Regions from separate parts of the Homo sapiens genome. Here region 2 is linked to region 1. The links come from fine-mapping of genetic effects on gene expression. A gene starts in region 1. The other region holds a variant in brackets. All regions are shown on one strand. Distances are from middle to middle. Region 1 holds the start of SCRN3 (secernin 3). Region 2 overlaps GPR155 (G protein-coupled receptor 155).

Region 1 (8,341 bases):
AATCTAAAAAGTATGAATTAGCAACAATAGCATAATTTGAAGCTCTCATTTTAAGTTCCACATTAAATGGGTTTTTAAAATAAGTTTTTAAAGGATCCTTTAATTAATGTGTATACTACCAAGTGACTGCATAAAATGTATATTGATAGTGTTAACATAGGGCCTAATAAACCTTTTTTGATGTGTCATAAAACTGTCATTCCTAAAGTCTGGGATGACTTTCCTATTCTACATCAAGTAGAACCTAAGCCAATTCAGAATCAGAATCCTTTTTGTCCATCAAATTCCAGCTAACTCCAAGCTGAATTAAATGTTCATTCTCTTCCGCTGCCACAGCATGCTACTGTTACTTAAATTTAGCATTTAAACCATCCTATTTTATAATGGGGTATAATGCATACACATCTTATTGCTATACTAGACTCTAAGCTCCTGGAACAGAGTCTTGACAGCTGACTTTAAATCTCTTGCCCTATCTAACATGCTTGCATATGGAAAGCATTCAAATATTTATTCAAACAATGGATAATTTTATTATTGTTATTTCAACGTCCTCCGAATCACTGAAATAAAAGATCACAGTTTATTTCTGACTCATTTATTTTTCAAATGTAAACTCCTCAATTTTAACTTCTACAGTTTCTTCCAAATTGCTATGTATAGAAATAACTTTATGATATTTTTAAAAGGCATATTGCTAACAAAACATTTATTTCACCTACCTTAAGACGTTCTCCCAGGTTATCATGAACTACAGCAGGAAAATAAACCACCTCTTGTACTTCATCATAGAGTCTATCTGAATTTTTTCCAAAAATAATCCTGTTATCGACTGTTGCTGGAGGTAATGCCACGAAAGTGTCACAGGAAAAAGGTTCCATTTTTTTTAACTAAAAATTATACAGATGTTTTAAAATAAAAAGAACACTTTTAAGTATATAAAAATAAAGAGTTTTACTCAATGACCAAAGGATATTATTGCCATATCTAATTAAGGATGTTCATTAAAGCTTTGATTTTTTTATTTTTATTTTTTGGAGACAAGGTCTAGCTCTTTCACCCAGGCTGGAGTGCAGTTGTATGATCAGGGCTTACTGCAGCCTGGAACTCCTGGGCTCAGGAGATCCTCCCCCTTCTGCCTCCCAAAGCCCTGGGATTACAGGCATGAGTGACCGTGCTTGGCTGTTCATTAAAGTTTTAAATTTTGTATACTACAGCCTAAAAATCAGTAAGAATATGACTTGGGACTCAATCTGGTACTACAACTCAGTAAGAAAATGGCAATGAGAACTACCTTCTTCTACTGTATAGTTCACATTTATTCTCTAAGACCTTTCTCTCCTAAAGTCTTCCCTGAATTTCGTTTCACCATTTCCATATTTGGGAATCCGTGTACCTAGCTCTATTGTTGTAAAGGCTAGATTCCATTACATTCGTGTATATATAAATCCCTTTACTGGACAATGAGATCCTTGAGGGCTGGGAGTATGTCTTACTAATCTTTATATTCTCTTTGCTGGAACTTGTCTTATGGAAAAAAATCTTACGTGCCCAGTACTTCCTCAAAGGAAGGAAGAAGGGGTCTTATTTGAGCTGGGAAATAATACACATTATAATTCTGATGAGACTGAAATTTTGAAACAGACTCATTGATTCAGACAAAAATATGTCAATATAATTCCAAATTGCTGATATTTCTAGGAGAAAGTTCACATATTTAATTTATAAATCGCAATTATATACTTTAATATCTAGATTACCTCTTCAGTTGTAACTTGGAAAATCTTAGATCTTCACTTATAATAGAACACCTAAAGGTCCTTATTTTGCTGCCAGAACAGACACATTGTTTTACAGAGTTTCCTTCTTTCCTTTAATAATGGCAAAACCTTAAAATGGCTTTACACAGGCAGATGCTAGCAACTTAAAAACAAAATTTAAATATAATAAATGTTTCCTTAAAAAGAAAAGAAAATGACTAAATAAAAACTTCAGACTGAAACTCTTAAGGGTTTTCCTCTTCTCCTCAGTGACGAGAAGTCTGATGTCTTGATGGCTTCTGTTATTTTCTTTCTGTATTTCAACTCTTATGTCCTGGATCTCCTTCTATTTGTGTTTTATAGTTAGTTCTATCACTATATAACTTTGGCAGACTATTTAATCTCTCTCTTACCTATGCCTTCTGCCTCATCAGAAAAATAAGACACTATTTGATGGGCTGTTATGAGAACTTAATAAGGCAACACGTAAAGTGTTTTGCACAGTGCATAGAACATAGTAGATACTCACATGAAAGCTGTTATTGTTATTATTTGGTAGGAGAGAAAATTTCTCATAAAGGCTTATTCGTTTTTTGTTTTTTTTTTTTGATGGAGTTTAACTCTTGTTGCCCGGGCTGGAGTGCAATGGAGCAGTCTTGGCTCACTGCAACCTCCGCCTCCCGCGTTCAAGTGATTCTCCTGCCTCAACCTCCCGAGTAGCTGGGATTACAGGCGCGTGCCACCACACCCGGCTAATTTTTCGTGTTTTTAGTAGAGACGGGGTTTCACCATGTTGGCCAGGCTGGTCTTGAACTCCTGACCTCAGGTGATCCACCCACCTTGGCCTCCCAAAGTGCTGGGATTACAGGCGTGAGCTACCGCGCCCGGCCAAGGTTTATTCTTAACATTACCCTGATAGAGAACTTGGTTGGTGGATCACCTGCTGCAGTAGCAGCCACGTCCACTCAAAAACCTGGAGTCCCAAGGGCCATCAAGCTGCAATAGTAACCTGAGCTGCCTAACTGGGGTCGTAGGGAAAGCTAAGGAAACTTGCCCCCTGGTTAGAATTGCACCTAGCCCACTGAGGAGGTGAAGCCTTGAGAGATTTTACCAACTCCTAACGCGTATTCGTCATTCAATAAGTATTTATTGAACGTCTTTCGGCGCCAGTACCGTACAGCTGGGTACAAAATAGACAGGGCCTCCGTTCTTGCAGAGCTGTCTGTCATTCTATTTCACGCGCTCTTAGTTCAGCCGGCGCTTTCAGAAACATCATATTGTTGGATTCTCGCAAGCATACTACGGTTAGGGCCGGAATTATTATCTTCATAACATAGATGAGAAAAACAGTGCAGAAAAGCTTTTGCAGCTCGAGTCAGAGTCCACAGAAAGTAATGGGCTCGAGCTTCAAGCACCTTTGGTCGAAGGGCCGCCGCGGTCCACCCCGCACCCCGGCCCTGGGCGCTCAAACCGCAGCCGGTGCAGCTGGGCTCCGGAGCCCCTCGGTCAAGCAGTGCCGCGCCACAGTTGGGTCTTCCGGGTTTCTGTCTCAACTATGCACGCCCCTCCCCCGTGCGCGCCCCTCACCTGGCCTCCCAGCTACCCGAAGTGACAGGTGGACGGAGGGAGGAGTGGCCAGTGGAGGCATCAGTTGCCGGAAGCTGTCACCTTTGATCTCGGAAGTTCCCCCTTGCTGCTGGAAACGCAGTTCCGGTTAGGCGGCTGAGTTTGTTTACGTTGCTAACAGATCTAGCCCCTGCTTTCCCTAGTTCCAGTTCCAAGATGGGGAAATCCTTCGCCAACTTCATGTGCAAGAAAGACTTTCATCCTGCCTCCAAATCCAATATCAAAAAAGTGAGTAAACAGACCCGGGGAGGGATTAGGCCCACAGGGACCGCCTTCCCAGAGGCTGCTGGAAGTGAAAGTGATGGTGTCTCTGAGATCCCTAGGACAGCCTCCGCTTCTCTAGGCCTAAAGCCCTGGTGGTCTCGCCTTTCTCTGCTGAGCAGCTCGCTGACGCAGCGGGTCCTCAGCGTTTATTCTGCAACAGCGAGGAGACCGGTGGCCTAGAGAATCTTTGTCGGCCAGAATGCAAATCCATAATATGCGAAGACTAATGTCAAAATTCCTCAGTACTTCCTTCAGCTGATTCTGGTTTTTTGTCTTTTCGGATCCCAGGGATCACGGCTTCTGAACTCTACTTTTCTGTACAAAGAAGCCTCCCCGTTTACTTAAGATAGATCTTTAAAAAAATTACCTAATAATCTAGTGTCTTTTTGATGACTAAACTCGTTGAAGTTTAGTGTTTTACATAATTACAGGTCTACCAGTTGTAATACTTTGGTGAATATCATAGTAATGAAAAGCAAAAGAGTGAAGTAGAAAGAATCAGCTTTGGAGTCAAACCTGGATTCTAGTTATTCGAGCAGTCACTTTTAGCCTTAAGACCTTGCACAAAATATTTGTAATATCTGACCCTCAGTCTTCTAATCTGTAAATTAAGGATGATTGACTTAATTGTGAGGATTAAGTGAAATAGTGAAGATAAAGGATTTGAAACAACGTAGGCATCTATCACTGTGTCCACTACAGAGAGGAGGTGCTCAATAAAATGTTGATTGCCCCTACATAGAAACTTGTGAAAATAACTAAGCTTTTATTTGTTTTTAGAACGAGTTGAGGTGATGAGATACTGCTATATACTCTCACTTCTAGACCAGTGATTCTCAACTTTTTTTTCACTGTTACCTTCCTAAGGAGTCTTATTAAACATTTTTTCTTAATAACTCCCCCATGAAATTTTAATAACACAGATACACCTTGAAAGCTCTTTGGTAATCATCCAGCCCCATCTCCTCATTTTATAAATGAGGAAACAAATTTGCCAAGAGTTACACAGCTAGTTAAATGTTGTACCAGAACTAGGATCTGGAACACCTGATTAACCCAGTGATTTTTTTTCCACTGCACCAGTTTGTGTTTGTGTGGTTGCAACTGTGGGAGGGAGAGGTTTCTTGTATTTGGTTGGCTCAATAACTTTTGACACCAAACACAGACATTTCCTTTCTCTGCATACTTAGGGGGTCAGCTGTTACTATTTTTACAAGAATGAAGAGATTAGATGGAATTCAGGTGCTTGCTTATTTGCTGTTTATATTTAGAGACAAATATACCTGAGAAATCATAATTTTTTACTGGAACTTTTGACATTTCGCTTTATAAATTTCAATGTATCAGCTTTCTTACAAGAAAAAAGAAATCCACAGAGAATAACTTTTGCAAGTCCGCTATGAGAAATTCAGTAAAGCAGTTATAGGCTTAGAACCTACATTCTTCTCATCTGTGTAAAGTGTTATGTAAAATGTACCAAATATTGTTGGCCTCTTTGATCTGTTTTATACTTTTCCCAGGATAGAGGAGAAGAATGAAATGTTTTTGATTAGCAGACCTTTCTAGATAGTTAACACTTTATGGGGAGAGGGGGTGACCTCTAGCATTCTTTATTAACTAAGGATAAAGGAACTATATTAAATGAAGATAAATAGAAAAATTTATTAGGGTAGGAGGAAACTTTTGGAGGTGATGGATATGTTTATAGTGTAGATTGTGATGATGGTTTCACAGGGATATACTTGTCACCAAACTCAGGTTGTATACATTAAATATGTACAGCTTTTTATATGTCATACTCCAGTAAAGTTTTTTTTTTTTTTTAATAGAAGTGGAAGAAACAAAGGAGTTTGATCAAAGAGTGCAAAAGAGTTCCACCATGAAAATTTTAAGGGCCAGGTATGGTGGCTCATACCTATAATTCCAGCACTTTGAGAGGCCAGGAATTCAAGACCAGCATAGGCAACAAAGTGAGACCCCATCTATATTTAAAAAGAAAGAAAGAAAATTCTAATTGTAAAATTAGGCATGTTGGGTTTATTAAAGTCCAGTAGGTTCTTTTTTTCCTTGTTTGTTTTCAGTTTCCCAAGCTTATAAAAAGTCCAGTAGGTTTTAAGGTCTCATTTGTTCACCAAAAATAAGAGTGAATGCTGTATATCTGCTGGTCACTCTGTTGTGTATTGTTATGCGCTGCCTCAATCATTTATGTCACAGGATACACTGTTTTGTTCAGCTGTTCTTTTTTTTTCTTGATTTTGTTAATGAAGGAAGCAGTTAATTTACATTGTGGTCCAAGCTCTTTAGTCTTCTTGTGGACTGGCAAACAGTTCATAAACTGGCTATTGACAATTGCATCACTGTAAACTCCCTTTTTTGTGAAACTCTCTGTTCCCTTAGCTGTAATAACTACTCTCTTCTAGTTTTCCAGCTCTCTTATTAGACTGTTCTTTTCCCATCAACTTCACTGGATCTTTATTCTTAGCCTGCTCCTAAAATATAAGTGTTCCCCAGAGTTTCATCCTTGGCCCACTTCTTGCTTACTTAGTATGCTTGCCCCAAGCAATCACATCCAACTAGCCTGTTTTAACTAGCCTGTTTACTCATGACTCAAATCTGCAGTCCCAGTTTTCTCTTCTTAACTTTGATGTGGCTCAAGACAGCTATCTACTAGACATTTGCATCTTGATGTCCTATAGGCACCTCAAACTCAACATATCTGATATAAAAGTTTTTTACCCCAAATCAGCCCTTTTTATACTTGCTATCTCATATGGGTAGAAATATAGATAGTAAAACAGTCCCTCATCCTGTTGCCCAAACCAGAAGCTCAGGATTCATCCCTTTTCCCATCACTCCTTTATCTAGTCAATCACTGAATGCTATTGGTCTTACCTTCCAAATATCTCTTGAATCCATCTTTCCTTTCTGTCACTGCTGCTTGTGTCTTAATTCAGACCCTCATCATCTTTCACCTATATTGTTGCATTTCCTAAGTGGTTCTACTGCCTCCAATCTTGAGTCCTCTCAAATCCATTCACTACACAGCCATCAGAATAGTCATTTTTCATTTTAACAGCTCTGCTGAGATAAATTTACATATCATACAAACACCCATGTAAAATGTACAATTTAGTGGTTTTTAAAATGTATTCATGGAGTTAAGTAATCATTACCACAAACAATTTTAGAACTTTGTCATCACCCCAAAAAGAAACCCCCGCTGGGCATGGTGGCTCACACCTGTAATCTCTGCACTTTGGGTGGCTGAGGTGGGTGGATCACCCGAGGTCAGGAATTCAAGACAGCCTGGCCAACATGGTGAAACCCTGTCTCTACTAAAAGTACAAAAATTAGCTGGGTGTGGTGGCGGGCGCTTGTAATCCCAGCTACTTGGGAGGCTGAGGTGGGAGAATCGCATGAACCCGGGAGGCGGAGATTGCAGTGAGCCAAGATTGCGCCACTGCACTCCAGCCTGGGTGACAGTGAGACACTGACTCAAAAAAAAAGAAACCTGCATACCTGTTAGTCACTCCCATTTTTCCTTAACTCTTCTCCCTCTCTCCAGCCCTAGGCAAGCACTAATCTACTTTCTGTTAGTGGATTTGCCTATTCTGGAAATTCATTTAAATGGAATCATGCAATCTGTGGTCTTTTTTGACTGGCTACTCTCACCATAATGTTTTTGAAGTTTATCCATGGTATGGCATGTATTGGTACTTTTTCCTTTTTATTGCTAAATAATATTCCATTGTATGAATGTAAGTTATTTCGATAGAATTGTCTTTTTTTAAGCACAAATCTGATCTCTTTCAGCCTGTTATTAAAATATTACAGGATTGAGTCCAAGTAATCTCACTCCATCGTTTTTCTCCTTCTCCCCTCCTACTATTCTCCCACCTCAGATTTATTTATTTATTTATTTTTTGAGATGGAGGCTCACTCTGTTGCCCAGGCTAGAGTGCAGTGATGCAGTCTCAGCTCACTGAAGCCTCTACCTCCCAGGCTTAGGTGATTCTCCTGCCTCAGCTTTCCGAGTAGCTGGGATTACAGATACACACCACCACGCCTGGCTAATTTTTGTATTTTTAGTAGAGATGGAGTTTCACCATGTTGGCCAGGCTGGTCTCAGACTCCTGACTTAAGGTGATCTGCCCACCTCAGCCCAACCTAAGATTTTATATGTTAGTAATATTGAACTACTTACGTTCTATTTTATATCTCTGGGCCTTTGCCTGAGTCATTCTCTCTGCCAGTTATATCTTGCCCTGTTTTTTTCCTTGGCCATGCCTTGATCCTTTTCAAAACCCTGTCAAATGTGTGTGAAATTACCTGTGTATTGAGTTCTTGCAGCAAAATTTTTAATAGCAAAATACTGGAAATTTCTTAAGTGCCCATTTATACAGTATGAGATAAATAAATTATAAATTATGGTATAGTCCCACAATATGCAACTTTACCACCCAAAAGAAGAAAGTGTTTGTTTACTGATCCATATTAGTCTTGTATTAGTATTAGTCTGTTCTCATGCTGCTATGAAGAAATACCTGAGACTGGGTAATTTATAAGGAAAGAATTTTAATTGACTTGCAGTTCTGCAGGGCTGGGGAGGCCTCAGGAAACTTAAAATCATGGCAGAAGGGGAAGCAAACACGTCTTTCTTCACATGGTGACAGCAAGGAGAAATGCCGAGC
Region 2 (8,341 bases), 55 kb before region 1:
TGATTGATATAGGTTGCTGCTCCTGCTCCATGGGAAATGGTGAATTACACTGCCCATCAATAGAGCCAATAGCAAACACAAGCACCAGTGAGCCTGTGATTCCTTCGTTTGAGAAAAGTAAGTGCCTCTGGACTATGAGGATGGGATTAAGGGACAGAAGATTCCTTATTCTTTTTTTTTTTTTTCTTTTTTTTGAGACGGAGTCTTGCTCTGTCACCCAGGCTGGAGTGCAGTGGCGCTATCTTGGCTCACTGCAAGCTGTGCCTCCCAGGTTCACGCCATTCTCCTGCCTCAGCCTCCTGAGTAGCTGGGACTACAGGCGCCCACCACCATGCCCAGCTAATTTTTTGTATTTTTAGTAGAGACGGAGTTTCACTGTGTTAGCCAGGATGGTCTCGATCTCCTGACCTCGTGATCTGCCTGCCTCGGCCTCCCAAAGTGCTGGGATTACAGGCGTGAGCTACCACACCCGGCCAGAAGATTCCTTATTCTTATCCCTCAAAAGAACTCTACATAGAATATCTATAGAAGTTACAAACATCAAGAATATAGATCCTCAATTAAGAGCAAAGAAGTGCTAATAGGGAATAATTGTGCATAGACAGAATACTCACTTTAAAAAATAAAGTTCTCACAAAGTGATAATAGGTAGTGTCATACACACATTTTCCAATAAATTTAACCCAAGTGACAAATCCAGGAAGTTTGCCCTAAAGGGCATTTTGGTGGGAGGTGGAGAGAGGGAAGCTTTTTTCTTGTTTTAGAAACAGACTTTTCCCCCATTCTCATCCCCTAGGACCAGGACTAATTAATTAGTTCTTAATTATATTTTGAATCTTTATGCTTTAAATATGGCCATTCTTATAAAATAAGGAACAAACACCTTTAAAAGTAATAACCTCTTGGCCAGACAAGGTGGCTCACGCCTGTAATCCCAGCACTTTGGGAGGCCGAGGCGGGTGGATCACAAGGTCAGGAGTTCGAGACCAGCCTGGCCAACATGGTGAAACCCCGTCTCTACTGAAAATACAAAAATTAGTTGGGTGTGGTGGTAATCCCACCCAACTGTAATCCCAGCTACTTGGGAGGCTGAGGCAGGAGAATTGCTTGAACACAGGAGGCGGAGGTTGCAGTGAGCCAAGATCACGCCACTGCACTGCAACCTAGGTGACAGAGCAAGACTCCATCTAGGGGGAAAAAAAAAGTAATAACCTTTTGACTAAGAGGCTGAATTACATTTGTGGCCTAAATTTCAAATTATTCAAAACAACCGAACATACTTATGTGGAATTGCAGTGCATTTTTCGTTGATTATACTTATTTATAATCAAACTAAAAAGGGAAACCCCCAAAAATGCTCTTTTTGATAAGGCCTATGTCAACTGTATTATTGCTAAAGGCATTATGTTTTTATATAAGAAATGTAAGGATTATAGAAAACAATGTATGCAAATCACTTAGCACAGTATGTGGTATACATAGTAAATGGTCATTAAAATATGTAGTAGCAGTAGTAATTATTGTTATTCAGATGGGATTTATATTTGGCTATCTGCTGGCAAGGAATGAATCTTAAATAATAATAGAATTCACATTTCCATAAAAAGTAGTGAAAACATATCAGATATGAAACATTCATTGACTTTTTTTTCTTTTACAAGAAACCCTTTCTGGCAGTTACACTGTCTTTGTTTTATCTGTCTGCTTTTTTTCTAAAATCGTTTCTTTACATCAGAATTCCCAAGGTTTTCCTCCTTATTGTTATCTCCCTACACAATATACCTAGTAGTAAAATCCATTAACAAATTCAACATGTAATCTGATTTGGCAAATTTCTTTTTCCCTCCCCAAATCTCCTTAGGCTTTGCTTATCTGTCATTTTCTTCATTAATAATGTTGATTCTCGCCTGAGCGTGGTGGCTCACTCCTGTAATCCCACCACTTTGGGAGGCAAAGGCAAGAGGATCGTGCTTGAGCCCAGGAGTTCAAGACCAGCCTGGGCAACATAGCCAGACCCTATCTCTACAAAGAATCAAAAAAATTAGCTGAATGCAGTGGCTCATGCCTGTAATCCCAGCTACCCAGGAGGCTGGGGTGGGAGGATCGCTTGAGCCCAGGAGGTTGCAGCTGCAATAGGCCATGATCATGTCTGAGCAACAGAGCAAGACCCTGTCTCAAAAATAAACAAACAAAAAGTTGATCATTGAAAATTCTCTTAAATTGTAGGGGCTTGGATTTTCTGATCATATTTTATAAAAATTATATAGAATGAGAGCCATTATATAGGGACTTCATCTAATCATACAATTTAGTGCCATCCCTAAGCCTAAAATAAAGCCTGAAGGAAATTAAACCATGGGCAAATTAGAATTTTTAGAGTTGACAATATAATTTATTCTCTACCCCTTGGCATAGTACAAAGGCAAAAATAAGTATCACATTTAGATTGTTGAATGGCAACAATGTATGAAAAAGCAAATGAAAGAAGATTTATTTTTATCCATTTTTGTAATATCTGTATAAAAAATTTTTTTTTTTTTGAGATGGAGTCTCGCTCTGTCATCCAGGCTAGAGTGCAGTGGCGCAGTCTTGGCTCACTGCAACCTCTGCCTCCCGGGTTCAAGCAATTCTCCTGCCTCAGGCTCCCAAGTAGCTGGGATTACAGGCACCTGCCACCACACCCAGCTAATTTTTTTTTGTATTTTTAGTAGAGACGGGGTTTCACCATGTTGGCCAGGCTGGTGTCAAACTCCTGATCTCAAGTGATCCTCCCACCTCGGCCTCCCAAAGTTCTGGGATTACAGGCGTCAGCTGCCGTGCCTGGCTTGTACACAATATTTTAAAACCAGATTTATTATATATAGGTATACTTCCAGGATTTTTCCACACATATATACAAATAATTTTTATTCAAATAGGATCATACTACAGAGACAGTTTGGCAACCTACTTTCTTTATACTTAGCAACATTATGAACCTTCCCCCATGCCATCAGCAATTGTGCTAGACCATGTTTAATGGGTATACATGGCCTTTTCTAAAATGTGGTTTTAGGAAATACAAATTTTTTCTTTTAGCTTGAGGGCAAGAGCTATAGAATTGTGGTTTTTAATCACTGACTTGTATAAGACTATATGTTGGACTAGACATCTATTTTGTAAAAAAAATGTTTTTCTTTGCTTTTGCTCCCATATATAGAATGGAGCTAAGGTAGAAAAACAAAGGCTTCCTGTGAAAAGTCCCTCACCTCTATTTTTGGCCAGAAAAGAGTCATGCCTGTGACTTGTGTTTGTATCCATATGTGAACAAAACATGGCATATAATACTTTTATGGTTCCTCAAAGGTGTTTCCTAAGGCAAAGTTTTTTTCAACTTTTACTTTAGATTCAGTGGGTACGTGTGCAGTTTTGCTACCTGGGTATATTATGTGATGCTGAGGTTTGGGGTACAAACAAATGATCCCATCACCCAGGTACTAAGCATAGTACCCAGTAGTTTTTTAGCCCT[T/C]GCCCTCTCCCTCCTTTCCACCTCTCGTAGTCCCCAGTTTCCATCATTACCATCTTTATGTCCATGAGTATCTGATGTTTAGTTCCCACTTATAAGTGAGCACATGCAGCACTTGGTTTTCTGTTTCTGTGTTAATTCACTTAGGATTATGGCCTCCAGATGCATCCGTGTTGCTGCAAAGGACATTATTTCATTCTTTTTTTTTTTTTTTCAAGACAGGATCTGGTTCTGCCACCCAGGCTGGAGTGCACAGCTCACTGCAACTGTTGCCTTCTAGGCTCAAGCCATCATCCCACCTCAGCCTACCAAGTAGCCAGGACTACGGACGTGTGCAACCACGCCTGGCTAATTTTTGTTTTGTTTTGTTTTTGAGATGGAGTCTCGCTCTGTCGTCCAGGCTGGAGTGCAGTGGCACGATCTTGGCTCACTGCAACCTCCGCCTCCCAGGTTCAAGCAATTCTCCTGTCTCAGCCTCCCGAGTAGCTGGGACTACAGGCACCTGCCACCATGCCCGGCTAATTTTTATATTTTTAGTAGAGACGGGATTTCACCATATTGGTCAGGCTGGTGTCAAACTCCTGACCTCAGGTGATCTGCCCACCTCAGCCTCCCAAAGTGCTAGGATTACAGGCGTGAGCCACCGCATCCGGACTTGTTTAGTTTTTTAGAGACAGGGTTTCGCCATGTTGCCCAGGCTGGTCTCGAACTCCTGAGCTCAAGCGATCTGCCCGCCTTGTCCTCCCAAAGTTCTGGGACTACAGGCATGAGCCACTGTGCCTGGCCTATTTCATTCTTTTTATGGCTACATAGTATTCCATGGTATATATGTAGCACATTTTCTTTATCCAGTCCACCATCGATGGGCACCTAGTTTGATTCCATGCTTTGCTGTTGTGAGTAGTGCTGTGATGAACATGCAAGTGCATGAGTCTTTTGGTAGAACCATTTTTTTTCTTTTGGATATGTACCCAGTAATGGGATTGCTGGGTCATATGGTAGTCCTGTTCTAAGTTCTTTGAGAAATCTCCAGGCTGCTTTCCACAGTGACTGAACTAATTTACATTCCCACCAATGGTATAAAGCATTCCCTTTTCTCTACAGCCTCACCAGCATCTGTTGTTTATTGATTTTTTAATAATAGCCCTTCTGACTGATGCAAGACGGTATCTCATTGTGGTTTTGATTTCTCTGATGATTAGTGATGTGCAGCATTTTTTCATGTTTGTTGGCCGCTTGTATGTCTTCTTTGAGAAGTGTCTGTTCATGTCTTTTGTGCATTTTTTAATGGAGTTATTTGTGTTTTGTTTGTTCAATTGTTTAAGTTCCTTATAGATTCTGGATATTAGGCCTTGTTAGATGCATAGTGTGCGAATATTTTCTCCCATTCTGTAGGTTGTCTGTCTACTCTGTTCATAGTTTCTTCTGCTATGCAGAAGCTCTTTAGTTTAATTAGGTCCCACTTGTCAATTTTTGGTTTTGTTTTTGTTTTTACCTTAAAACTTCCCAGTAGGCCGGGCGCGGTGGCTCACGCCTGTAATCCCAGCACTTTGGGAGGCCGAGGCGGGTGGATCATGAGGTCAGGAGATCGAGACCATCCTGGCTAACAAGGTGAAACCCCGTCTCTACTAAAAATACAAAAAATTAGCCGGGCGCAGTGGCGGGTGCCTGTAGTCCCAGCTACTCGGGAGGCTGAGGCAGGAGAATGGCGTGAACCCGGGAAGCGGAGCTTGCAGTGAGCCGAGATTGCGCCACTGCAGTCCGCAGTCCGGCCTGGGCGACAGAGCGAGACTCCGTCTCAAAAAAAAAAAAAAAAAACAAAAAACAAAAAACAAAAAACTTCCCAGTATAGTGTTTTTGTTACAATTGCTTTTGAGGACTGAGTCATAAATTCTTCCCAAAGGTCGATGTCCAGAATGGTGTTTCCTAGGTTTTCTTCTAGGATTCTTATAGTTTGAGGCATTACTTTTTTTTGAGACACAGTCTTGCTCTGTTGCCCATGCTGGAGTGCCATGGCACGATGTTGGCTCACTGTAACCTCTGCTCCCAGGTTCAAGCAATTCCCTTGCCTCAGCCTCCCAAATAGCTGGGATTACAGGCGGCCGCCACCATGCCTGGCTAATTTTTGTATTTTTAGTAGAGACAGGGTTTCACCATGTTGGCCAGGCTGGTCTTGAACTCCTGACCTCAAGTGATCCGCCCATCTCAGCCTCCCAAATTGCTAGGATTACAGGCGTGAGCCACCGTGCCTGGCTGAGACATTACATTTAAATCTTAGTCCATCTTGAGTTAATTTTTGTATATGGTGAAAGGCAGGGGTTAAGGCAAATTGTAAACTCTTTAATGAGAGGTTAAGAGATAATAATAATTTGTTTCACAGTTAGCCAAAATAGGGTATTCATGACTAATATGTAGATTTATCAGTGATAAAACTTGAGTTATTAATTCGGCCTTTAAAATTATATGTATATAATTTTAATATATACAATATAAAAATAAAAATATATATTATATACTTTTTCAACCTTTGTCCCCCTTCCTCCCTCCTCACCTCTAGTAGTCCCCAGTTCCTATTGTTGCCATCTTTATGTCCATGAGTATCTGATATTTAGCTCCCACTTATAAGTAAGCACATGCAGTACTTGGTTTTCTGTTCCTGTGTTAATTCACTTAGGATATATATAATATCTAATATATATTATATATTTAATATATAATTTATATATGTAAATTATAAATATAATTAAATATAAAATTTTTATTTATATATGCTTATATATTAATTTGTAATTTATATAATATGCACAAATTACATATATAATTATATATAAATTTATATGATTATAATATATACTGATATATAATATACATTTATAACATAATATATAATTGTTATATAATTATATATGTAATGTGTATATATTATTTATATAACTAATATATAAAATAAAAATTATATATAATTTATACTTAATTATATTAATTATATAAAAATTATATATAATTTTTTATTATTTTTTTTAATTTTTTTTGAGACAGAGTCTTACTCTGTGGTGCAGTCTTGGCTCACCACAACCTCTGCCTCCTGGGTTCAAGCGATTCTCCTGCCTCAGCCTTCCAAGTAGCTGGAATTACGGGTGCCCGCCACCACACCCAGTTAATTTGTGTATTTTTAGTAGGGATGAGGTTTCACCGTGTTGGCCAGGCTGGTCTTGAACTCCTAATCTCAAGTAATCTGCCTGCCTCGGCATCCCAAAGTGCTGGGATTACAGGCATGAGCCACCGCACCCAGGCAAATTATGTATAATTTTTAAAGACCAAATTATATAACTTATGTTAGATAATTATATATATAAAACATTGTTGAATAGTGTAAAAGGGAACTATTGTATTCTACTTATGTTTTTTGAGATAAAAACATTTCAGCTAGAATTCTTCTAAAGCAACATGAAGGAGCTTTCTTCCAATTTCATCTAAAATAATATACTGATTCTTAGCTGAATGTGCTTTTCTGTTGTTTCTCTTAGGAAGTCATTACAAATTTAAAATGCATTTAGATAAAAAGCTCTGATTACAAATTGTTGTGCTTACTCTTTTATAGACAATCATTGTGTGAGTCGCTGTAACTCCCAGAGCTGCATATTAGCCCAGGAAGAAGAACAGTATCTACAGAGTGGAGACCAGCAACTGACCCGACATGTGTTGCTGTGTTTACTTCTCATCATTGGCCTGTTCGCTGTAATGGTTTTTTCTGGTTTTGTTTTGGGGCCATTTCTTTAAATTTTTGGCAAAGGTTTTATTCAGGCATCCGGGAAAAACTTAGTTGCTGCTTTCCAGAAGTGTGGTAGCTAGGTCACCTGAATTTGGATCTTGAGCTAAATAATTGCAGGTGTGAGGGGAAGAGATGAATCATTCACATTACTCTGAGGCCTGAGTGCTCCAATAGCTTATTCTGCTTAGAATCATTTATTCATTCTATGCTCTGAACCTAGAATTTGGTAAAAGCAGCTATTTCTTTTTATTTTTTATTTTTTTTTTTTTTGAGACAGAGTCTAACTCTGTTGCCCAGGCTGGAGTGAAGTGGCATGATCTCAGCTCACTGCAACCTCTGCCTCCCGGGTTCAAGCGATTCTCCTGCTTCAGTCTCCTGAGTAGTTGGGATTACAGGCGCATGCCACCATGCCTGGCTAATTTTTGTATTTGTAGTAGAGACGGGGTTTCATCATGTTGGTCAGGCTGGTCTTGAACCCCTGACCTCAGGTGATCCACCCTCCTTAGCCTCCCAAAGTGCTGGAATTACAGGCGTGAGCCACTGCGCCAGGCCCAAAAGCAGCTATTTCAATAATGTACACAGGGCCACTTATTCCTAACATACCTGACTGACCAAAGTGGATAAATGCCTACATTAATGTCTCAGAACATGAAACCTCAGTGTCCACCAGAAAAAAAAAAAGAAAACCAAAAAACCTCTCAGAACATATTCCTCAGATAAACTTTAAAAAATAATTTTCAATTATCAAAATAACATAACTACTTCATATAATAGACCCTTACAAAATAGAGAAAATTAAAATACAGTATTTTATTTTTAGACTACATGCATTTCTTTGATTACTAAATGTCCTATTTGTGAATTATCAGTTCTTATTATATAATTCTTTGAGATGGTTCAAGTGTAACTCGTCCAGAGGTAGGAGATGGACCAGATAACCTATGAAGGAACGCTTTGCACACTGGGATGCTCGTGAGATAGTGTGATATCAGCCAATACCACTTTAAGTGCCATTTAAGAACAAAAATCAAAAAATAAGAAATGCTGCCAAGAATTGCTTAGTG

The links. PIP is the estimated chance that this variant, and not a neighbour inherited with it, causes the effect.
Region 2: its variant is fine-mapped to the expression of SCRN3 in tibial artery (GTEx, PIP 0.92).

Annotation. Positions count from the first base shown.
Region 1 is chr2:174,390,824-174,399,164 of GRCh38, reverse strand. It overlaps SCRN3 (secernin 3), which reads right to left and starts at 3,435. Exons shown (of 8, transcript NM_024583.5): 1 at 3,348-3,435; 2 at 723-890. The coding sequence starts at 881. CIRSR (corepressor of RBPJ and splicing regulator) reads left to right here and starts at 3,453. Exons shown (of 10, transcript NM_004882.4): 1 at 3,453-3,614. The coding sequence starts at 3,543. RefSeq lists enhancers at 2,507-3,007, 3,505-3,554 and a silencer at 6,941-7,105.
Region 2 is chr2:174,445,513-174,453,853 of GRCh38, reverse strand. It overlaps GPR155 (G protein-coupled receptor 155), which reads left to right. Exons shown (of 16, transcript NM_152529.7): 11 at 13-117; 12 at 7,107-7,243. Among named protein-coding and RNA genes, the nearest start is that of GPR155, 37 kb to the left of the region's middle. The variant T/C (reference allele first, on the strand shown) is at 3,509.